Linked DNA regions of Homo sapiens. The protein of the gene in region 1 interacts with the protein of each later gene in a pairwise test. Each region holds a gene or a part of one and is shown on either strand. Other genes may lie near its edges.

Region 1 (4,953 bases):
TTGCATTTAGCTATCATGTCTCTAGTCTCTTCTAATCTGCACTTGTTCCTTAATCTTTTGTTTTTTTTTATTGCATTGACATTTTTGAAGAGCACACTTTTTTTGTAGGATGCTTTATGGGTGTCATTCAGTGCTTCACATTAGGCATATTATGTCATTTAGTTGTGATATGAATTTTGATTAGTTAGGTTTTGCCACTGTAAAGTTAAATATCTTTTCTCTCTCTCTCTTTTTTTTTGAGACGGAGTCTCACTGTATCGTCCAGGCTGGAGTGCAGTGGCTCCATCTCTGCCCACTGCAACCTCCGCCTCCTGGTTTCAGGCTGTCCTCCTGACTCAGCCTCCCGAGTAGCTGGGACTATAGGCGTGTGCTACCGTACTCGGCTGATTTTAGTATTTTTAGTAGTGATGGGGTTTCACCATATTCGTCAGGCTGGTCTCTAACTCCTGACCTCAAGTGATCTGCCTGCCTCAGCCTCCGAAAGTGGGATTACAGGTGTGAGCCACCATGCCCAGCCTTATTTTTTCTCTTTTTGATTTGTAAATGAAGGATGGGAGATTCTCTATCTTTTTATCTTTCTTGAACACTTATGGCAAAATATTTTCCAGGTTCATCTTGCACTGTTCCTGGCCCAGTCCCTATTCTTGAATCAGCTGTTCCTTCAAGGAGGCCTGGTTCTTTTTAGTTATACTTATGAAAGGACGACAAGTTTATGTTGAATGATTGCATTTGTGTTTTCTTCCGGATTGGTCTAGACTGAACAAGGTTAGGAATCCTGTCTGCTTAAGCATGTATATAGAAATGGCATAGTAAGAAATTGTTGATTAAATCATTGTTTTCTCTAGCATTAATCTTAAGTTTTCTTTTTAGGATAGCAAACCTGAAACGCCTAAAATCTTTTAACCTTTGAATATGAGATAACTTTTTGTCTGTGCAAAATTACATGAAGCCAATTATAGTCATAATTTTTAGAGGAAGGCTTAGATTAAAATGTAAAGATGTGGTAGACTTCTAAATATGCAAAGAATCACATGGAGTATGATTGTGAATTACAGGTTTAATTACAGTTTTTTTCTTTTAAAGGAAGTATCTAACTTCTTAGTATAATACACTATTATATAAACTGTCTCATTTAATACAGAGAGTATTGAGGTATATGTTGATATCTTTCTTTTTTGTTTTTTGAGAGAAGAGTCTCCCTGTGTTACCCAGGCTGGAGTGCAGTGGTAGGATCATGACTTACTGCAGCCTTGACTGCCTGGGCTGAAATGATAATCCCACCTGAGCCTCCTAAGTAGCTGGGACCACAAGTGCAGGCCACCATTCCTGGCTGATTTTTGTTTCTGCTTTTGTGGAGACTCACTCTACAAAAAACTCACTGTTGCCCAGGCTAGTCTCAAACTCCTGGGCTTAAGCAGTTCTCCTACCTCAGCTCTCCAAAGTGTTGGGATTTCAGGAGTGAGCCACTGTGCCTAGCTGGTACCTTTCTTTTTACAGAGGAGTAACAGCCTTAGAAACTGAATAACTCATAATATATAATTGGATCTGCACTCAGGTGTGTCTTATACCTACTGCGAGCAATCTTTTTCAGGCTGCACTACCCTTGAGTGTTTATATCAATATTTTTGGAGACAGACTTGGGGAATTTTAAATATCTGCTGAAGTTAGGAATATGATTGCCTTTTTTTTTGAGACAAGGTCTTACTCTGTCGCCCAGGCTGGAGTGCAGAGGTGCAGTCTGGGCTTACTGCACCCTCCACCTCCCGGGTTCAAGCAATCCTCCCGCCTCAGCCTCCCTAGCAGCTGGGACTACAGGTGTGGGCCATTATGCCTGTCTCATTTTTGTATTTTTAGTAGAGATGGGGTTTCACCATATTGGCCAGGCTGGTCTTGAACTCCTGACCTTAGGTGATCTGCCTGCCTCGGCCTCCCAAAGTGCTGGGATTGCAGGCATGAGCCACTGTGCCCATCCGGGATATGATTGCCTTATAATGTTTTGAGGTGTGGGCTGTGGCATTTACATGCTTAGGGCTTTGTCAGTTTTTGGATATTTATCTTGTGGTGAGGTAAAGTGTTCTGAGCAAACAAAATGTATGTGAGTGTAGTCTTTTTACCGGCTATTGTAGAGTGGGCATTTTCAGTCTTGGCACTGTTGACATTTTGGATTAACTAATTCTTTGTTGTGGGAGCCTGTCCTGTGCATTGTAGGAATTTAGCAGCATCCCTAACCTTATAAGTTGTCAGTAGCATTCCATGTAGTGAATACTGAAATGTCAGCAGGGCATGCTGGCTCATACCCATAATTCAGAACTTTGGGATGCTGAGGCGGGAGGACCACTTGAGCCCAGGAATTAAAGACCAATCCGGGCAATATAACAAGATCCCGTCTCTACTCAAAAAAAAAAAAAAAAAAAAGAAAAAAGAGAAATTAGCCTTGCATGGTGGCGCGCCCCTGTAGTTCTAGCTACTTAGGAGGCTGAGGCAGGAGGATTGCTTGAGCCTGGAATGTCAAGGCTGCAGTGAGCTGTGGTGGCTCACTGCATTCCCACCTGGCTGACAGCAAGACCCTGTCTCAGAACCCCACAACAACAAAAACTGAAATGTCTCCAGATATTGCCAGATGTCTCATGGAGGCAGACTTGTCCCAGTCACCAATGGTGTAGAGTGATTTGACTTTCTAAAAGTCTGTTGAATAAATTAAAACTTTCTGTTGGCATTGCAGGGGTCTGTTGCAAATAAATTCTATGTTCACAATGATATCTTCAGATACCAAGATGAGGTCTTTGGTGGGTTTGTCACTGAGCCTCAGGAGGGTAAGTAGTGAAATACTTTAAATTACTTGTCTAAATTTTTTTTAATGGCATCCGATTGCCCTTAAGAGACTATGGGTTTCTTTACTGTTTTCATTACACTCTGTTCTTCATTAATAACTAATTATGGTATATGAAGAGTCTGAGGTTTTACCCTACTTGAAGCTGCTAACAGGTTAGCTTATATCATGGATGTTAGTAGAAGACATAAGACTCTTAGGTCAGAAGGAGACAGGCTAACTCACAGCGACAGTAGTAGTATTTTTGCCACATTTACCAATAGGATGTCATGGAGAAGGCTAGGTGATACTTCTACTGCAGTGGGTTGTGTTAAAGGCATGGGACACTGAGTTTAGGGAACCCAGATCTATTACAACAGGCAGTAAACATGACTACTCTTTGTGCTGGAGGGAGATACTCTTTCAAAGCTGTTTGCTATATAAATGTTCTTGAAAGACAGTCTAGAAGAAAGGGTAGGCATGGAAGATGTGTAGACACAGAGACTTATGGAAAATTTTCTCCAAAATAGTAGAATTGAGTGTTGTTTATATGGCTGAGAGTATATTTATTTTGTAATACAGTTTTACAGATAAGCAATCATTTGCCTAGTAAAGTGGTAGAGCCTGCATTAGATAACTGCCTAATATAATTTGGCTAATGTCACGTAGCCAGTAAGGTGACAGAGCCTGCATTAGGCTCCATGCTCTTAAAAACCAAGACACTACAGTAGCCTTAAAGTCTATCCTTAAGGCTGGGCGCGGTGGCTCACGCCTGTAATTCCAGCACTTTGGGAGGCCCAGGCGGGCAGATCACGAGGTCAGGAGATCGAGGCCATCCTGGCTAACATGGTGAAACCCCATCTCTACTAAAAATACAAAAAATTAGCCAGGCGTGGTGGCAGGCGCCTTAGTCCTAGCTATTCGGGAGACTGAGGCAGGAGAATGGCGTGAACCCAGGAGGTGGGGCTTTCAATGAGCCGAGATCGCGCCACTGCACTCTCTAGCCTGGGCGAGAGAGCGAGACTCCGTCTCAAAAAACAAAAAACAAAAAAAAGTCTGTTCTTCAAAGCCTTAGTTCTGTCCTTAAAGTCAGTGCCATGATTTTACCAAATTGTCCTACTTTGTTTATTTATATATGTTTTTCTTCACTGTTGTTTTGTGAACATTGCGAAAGTTAATGTATATGTGAATTCAGTAAGTACAAATTACTTTAAATATCTTTTTCTCACTTAGAGTCTGAAGAAGAAGTAGAGGAACCTGAAGAAAGACAGCAAACACCTGAGGTGGTACCTGATGATTCTGGAACTTTCTATGATCAGGCAGTTGTCAGGTAAGAAGATTTTGTTCACATGTCCGGGGCTGCATAAGAACTTGCATTGTCTAGTCTTTCCCTTTGTTGGAGGGCATTTACATATTCTGAGAATTACCTCAAAATAATAATTTCTCAGAAGAATGGTTTTGTTTCTGGTAATTTTGACTAAACAAAAATATGTAACTTGTTTGTTAATAGTAAATTGTACTATGAAGGCAATCTACTATTGCTTAGTTTAAATAGTATCAGTTTCTTTTTGGTTTAGTTTTTTCTTGGTGTTAAGTGAAAACTTGCATATTGTTTATCAAGAGTTGAATGTATTGAGGTATTAAATGCTTTGAGGGAATATGAAGTGGACAGAGACCTATTTAATTAGAGATCGGGCATAAATTGATATAAATACCAATATGTGAGTTAAGTAGCAATAAAGAATTTCATTACGTTAGTAAGTGCATCATTATACCTTTGGGTTTTTTCCCCCTTGTGATTAGAACAGAAATGTGTTTGATAGCAATAGAAATCCATATTTACTTGTTACCATGTGATACTGAATGTTAATATTCAGTGCCTGAAGGGTGTTTTCAAGTGTTTCTTAAGGTGTGATGAACTAATCAGGTTACTCACTTGGGTTGCTGGTTGAAAATGAAGATTCATGGTCCCACTGCAAACCTACCGAATTAGACTTTCAGGAGGCAAAACATCTGCAGTTTTGTTTGTTTTTGTTCTATTGAGACAGAGTCTTGCTCTGTTACCCAGGCTGGAGTGCAGTGGCGCGATCTTGGCTGACTGCAACCTCCGCTTCCTGGATTCAAGCAATCCCCCTGCCTCAGCC
Region 2 (4,953 bases), on another chromosome or scaffold:
ACAGTCACCTGGATGCCAAGCTGGGGCTCTCCCGCCCTGAGCCCTGCCGCTGGACTGCACTGTGCTTCTCCTCTTCAGTGCGCCCATCGTCGTTCTCCATGGCGATCCGTAGGCGGTACTGGGGGCTTGATTCAATCTCTCGAGCCAACTGGGCCGCACGCAGCTCTCGCTGACGAAACTCTTCTGAGTTGTCCTTTTCTAAGGGCACCCTGAGACAGCACCCACAGACCACCACCATCCCAGTGCCAGGGGACAAAAGAGGAAAAAAGGAAAAACATTTCAACAAGTCCAATCACCAGTTCAGGCATGGAAGTATTTAATCCCTTCAACATCTGGGTAACGGGCACCGACTGCATCCCAGGTAGAGCACCAAGGCTTATCTGGGAATGTGAGAAGCACTTAAGACGCTTAAAACCTTTGAGGGAAGAATTCCACAAGGCAGAGTAGGAGTAGGGATGGCGACCCTGGACACCCAGAGAAAAATGAGCAAAAACTATGTTCTACCTGGAAACCTGTCTTCACTTAGTGACCCCATATCACCAACACATCACCTGGAGAGCACCAAGATACTCACGTATAAGAAGAAAGACTGCTATCATAGGTAGTCTTCACACCGTAGTTCTCCTCATTGAACTTGAACATTTCATTGGGGTCCCATCCATTGGACTGGGGAGGGAGGAAGGTGGTTTTAAAACCCAGCAGGAAAAGCAACGACAAGTCACTTCCCTTCCATCAGGTTAAAAACTCCAAGATGTGAACAAATTGGCTGGGCACAGTGGCTGAAACCTGTAATCCCAGTACTTTGGGAAGCTGAGGCAGGAGGCTCTCCTGAGGCCAGGAGTTTAAGGCCAGACTGGGCAACACAGCAAGAGCTCATCTCTAGAAAAAAATAATGAAACAGCCGGGTGTGGTGGTGCATGCCTGGGGTCCTAGCTACTCGCTACTCAGGAGATTGAGGAGAGAGGATCACTTGAGCCCAGGAGTTTGAGGCTGCAGTGAATTATTATGGCACCACTGCGCTCTGGCCTGGGCGACTAGCTGGGCGTGGTGGCTCATGCCTGTAATCCCAGCACTTTGGGAGGTGGGTGGATCACCTGAGGTCAGGAGATCAACCTGACCAACATGGTGAAACCCCGTCTCTACTAAAAATAAAAAATTAGCCATCCGTGGTGGCGCATGCCTGCAGTCCTGGCTGAGGCAGAAGAATCGCTTGAACCTGGGAGGCAGAGGTTGCAGTGAGCTGAGATCGAGCCACTGCACTCCAGCCTCCAGCCTGAGTGACAGAGTGAGACCCTGTCTCCAAAAAAAACAAAAACAAAAACAAAAACAAACAACTACAACAAAAACCCGGGCAACAGAGCAAGCTCGTCTCAAAAATAAACGACAAAACAAGAGTGGAAAAAAAATTGGAACGTGGCTGGCAAAAGTAATCAACTAATAATTGTAATTAATAACTGCAATTTTTTTTTTTTTTTTGGAGACAAAGAGTTTCACTCTTGTTGCCCAGGCTGGAGTGCAATGGTGCGATCTTGGCTCACCGCAACCTCCGTCTCCTTGGGTTCAAGCGATTCTCCTGCCTCAACCTCACGAGTAGCTGGGATTACGGGCATGTGCCACCACGCCCAGCTAATTTTGTATTTTTAGTAGAGATGGGGCTTCTCCACGTTGGTCAGGCTAGTTCCAAACTCCCAACCTCAGGTGATCTGCCCGCCTTGGCCTCCCAAAGTGCTGGGATTACTGGTGTGAGCCACCGCGCCCGGCCTGCAACTGTTAATGATTACTAACAACTGCAGCAGAAATTATCAATAACTAGTAAACCTGAAAAGTCATAAGACCTAACAATTCTATTTCCAAGACATCCCAGAAAAATTCTGGCACATGTGCGTGGGGAATATATGTTCTAAAAGTCCAGCAAGGTACTATTTTTAGTAGCAAAATAATGGCAACCAAATGCAGATGATTAAGGAAAAGGACAAATACAATTTGCTGTGTACACGTGTGTGTGTATATTTGAAAACAGCACACAACAATAGAAGCAAAGAACTAGATCTACGTACAACCATGAGAAGTTCGAAAAGGCAAGAAAAGCAAATTCTTGTACAAACTAAACATAACAAAACAATAATATATTCATTCACAAGACATTTGTTTCTCAACAGATAGTCTCGCTATGATGCCCAGGCTGGAGCACAGTGGCCATTCACAAGTTGAGTCATAGTGCACCAAAGCTTCAAATGATTCTCCTACCTCAGCCTCCTGAGTAGCTGGGACTACAGGTGTGGGACCACCACGCTCAGCTCTATTCATGAGCGGTTTTTATTTATTTTTTTGAGACATCCTCACTGTCGCTCAGACTGGAGTCCAGTGGCACAATCTCAGCTTACAGCAGCCTCAAACTCCTGGGCTCAAGTGATCGGAGCTCCTGCCTTGGCCTCCCAAGTAGCTGGGACTACAGGCATGAGCCACTGCGCTCAGCCTCATGAGATTTTAAATGCCTCAGAGTAGCTGATTTTGGGAAGAGAAATGGGCCTACACATTAATCTATACTTTTTGTTATGTTGAAAAATAACGTGATGCAAATGCTAGGAGTGGTTAATTATAGATAGTAAGAGAGTAAGTTGATGTTTTGGTTTTGTTGCGTGTGACACGGTCCACCCAGGCTGGAGTGCAGTGGTATGATCACAGCTCACTGTAGCCTCGACCTCCCTGGGCTCAAGTGATCCTTCCACTTCAGCCTCCCAAGTAGCTGGGACTACAGGTACATGCCACCAAACCTTGATAGCTTTTATATATCTTGTTGAGACAGGGTTTCACCATGTTGCCCAGACTGGTCTCGAAATCCTTGCCTCAAGTGACCCACCGGCCTTGGCCTCCCAAAGTGCTGGGATTACAAACATGAGCCACTGCACCCAGCTAAGAATAGATATTTTTACTTTGCTATTTTCTATACCTTTCTATTTGTTATCTGACTACCATCAATGGGCAACAGTAAATATTTCCCTCCCCACTCAAATGAACCTCACTGTCAACAACCCATTCTGTCTGTCCAGCTCCCAAGTTCTCAGGGAAGGAGGCTATACCATGTCAGACTCGAGGTCATAGTCGTCGCTGTTGCTGTCACCCCCCTCCCAGCGCTGAAGCACCTTCTCTTTGTGTTCCCCATTCACTTTCGAGTTCATGGCAATGGCTGAATCGGTGAACTTGTCTGTGGGGGCAGAGGTGAAGATCAGGAGTCAGGCTATATTTCACAGACTTCTTTCCAATATCCCCCAACCCCACTCTCCGTAAGTAGTTCAGGAACAAAGTTTAAGAAGTCCAGAGTACGTGTGCCCGTGTGTTAGGATGGCCAGGGGGTGGGGAGGCAAGAGAAGAAGAGTATAAAAAGTCTATCAGTACTATGATTCCAAAGAAAAAAGAAGTTAAAAACCAAGCAAAGAAAATATGAAGAACCACAACACAGACAGGAATTCATCGCATTATATATTAGACATCAAGACATATTTTTAAGAAGAAAAATCCACCCACTTCGCTCAGGAAAAAAAAGGCATTAAAGCAAAACAAACAAACAAAAACAAAAAAACAAACCAAACACATCACCATGTTCCACCTGCACACAAACTACCCTCTGTCCTCTATGCACACAGAGCAGGTCTGAGGTAACAGCCTAGGACAATACCTTTAGTAGCATAGTTGAAGTCAACATTTCGGAAGTGAACAAGCATGACATCACTTGGCTTAAACACCATGGTGTCCACAATGTCCTCCCGACGAGGGCCACCTGCTGGCTCAGATGCTTTCCGGTGCACAGCATCCACGGCTAGTTCAAACTACAAACACCCCATTCCCCACACCCATGGGTCAGTTTCAAGAAAAGTGAAGGCAAAAATAGAACTGGATTTCTCTTAAATAGAACTGGATTTCTCTTACCCTTCCCAAACTTTTCACAACACTACATCCTCAACATGCTTGGAACCAAGTGCATTGTTTTCTCAACATCAGCCACAGGACTTAGCAAAAGTCTCACAAAAATTTAAACTTAAATATTTTAACATTAAAGTACCCAGCCCTCAAATTTGTCTTTTTTCCCTGCAGCACTATTCAGCACAGGCCTACAGAAACAACTAAAGGCATACTCTGACATCACCCAATTGACACCTTCAATGAGCCTATTTCATTCTCCTCCTACTCTGCAACTCCAAAAATAATTAAATTTGAGTACACTGACCTTTGAGCTTAGCGTCTTGAAGATACCCTCATAAGTGGTACCATTTTTCACCTTTACATCACAAGTGGAGCCCTGGCAGAGTGGGAAAAATAAGAAGAGTGTCTCCAGAAAGTAGATGCATTACGTTCCTTAAACAACCCGGGGGTTAAGTACCAACTTACCACAACAGCTGTAAGGAAATGCAGCATTCTGGAATTGTTGTAGACGCCTTCAAACACCTGTCAGTTAACATAAGAGGGAGAATTAAAGGAGTAATCAGTCAACACCTCATTTTCTTTTCTAAATGCCCGCCGCACTCTACTCATTCTGCCTTGTGTGTGCCGGGCCCACAGCCCTCCTGAGTACATTAGACTCTATCTAGACCTAATGTGCCCTATATTCCCACATTATGCATCTTTTAGGTCTATGTATCTTAAACAGGGTGGGAGAAGACACTCACAGGTGACTGTGGGGGTCCCTTTCCTGTGCTCTGTCCCCTATAAAAGAAAACAAGAAATTACTTAAGTCTGTTCAAGCCCTCTTAGACCACTATGAAATTAATGTTAAATCCTAGAAGTATATACCACCTGATGATGCTGATTTAGACTACAAAATTGTTAATCAGTAAGATTTTTCTATTTTTTTTGAGACAGGGTCTCCCTCTGTTGCCCAGGCTGGGGTGCAGTGGCGTGATCTCAGTTCACTGTAGCCTCAACCTCCAAGGCTCAAGTGATCTTCCTGCCTCAGCC

What was found. Proteins that work in one complex are often made in the same cells at the same time.
Region 2: the proteins of G3BP1 (region 1) and ATXN2L interact in binary tests that used the Homo sapiens proteins (3 or more experiments, as listed by UniProt).

What each region holds. Positions count from the first base shown.
Region 1 is NC_000005.10:151,791,437-151,796,389, forward strand, and holds part of G3BP1 (ras GTPase-activating protein-binding protein 1), read left to right. Parts: intron 1-2,722; coding exon 2,723-2,813; intron 2,814-4,042; coding exon 4,043-4,139; intron 4,140-4,953. UniProt on the Homo sapiens protein: Protein involved in various processes, such as stress granule formation and innate immunity. Plays an essential role in stress granule formation.
Region 2 is NC_000016.10:28,825,114-28,830,066, reverse strand, and holds part of ATXN2L (ataxin-2-like protein), read right to left. Parts: intron 4,702-4,953; coding exon 4,665-4,701; intron 4,444-4,664; coding exon 4,387-4,443; intron 4,298-4,386; coding exon 4,226-4,297; intron 3,828-4,225; coding exon 3,677-3,827; intron 3,206-3,676; coding exon 3,081-3,205; intron 667-3,080; coding exon 575-666; intron 210-574; coding exon 9-209; intron 1-8. UniProt on the Homo sapiens protein: Involved in the regulation of stress granule and P-body formation.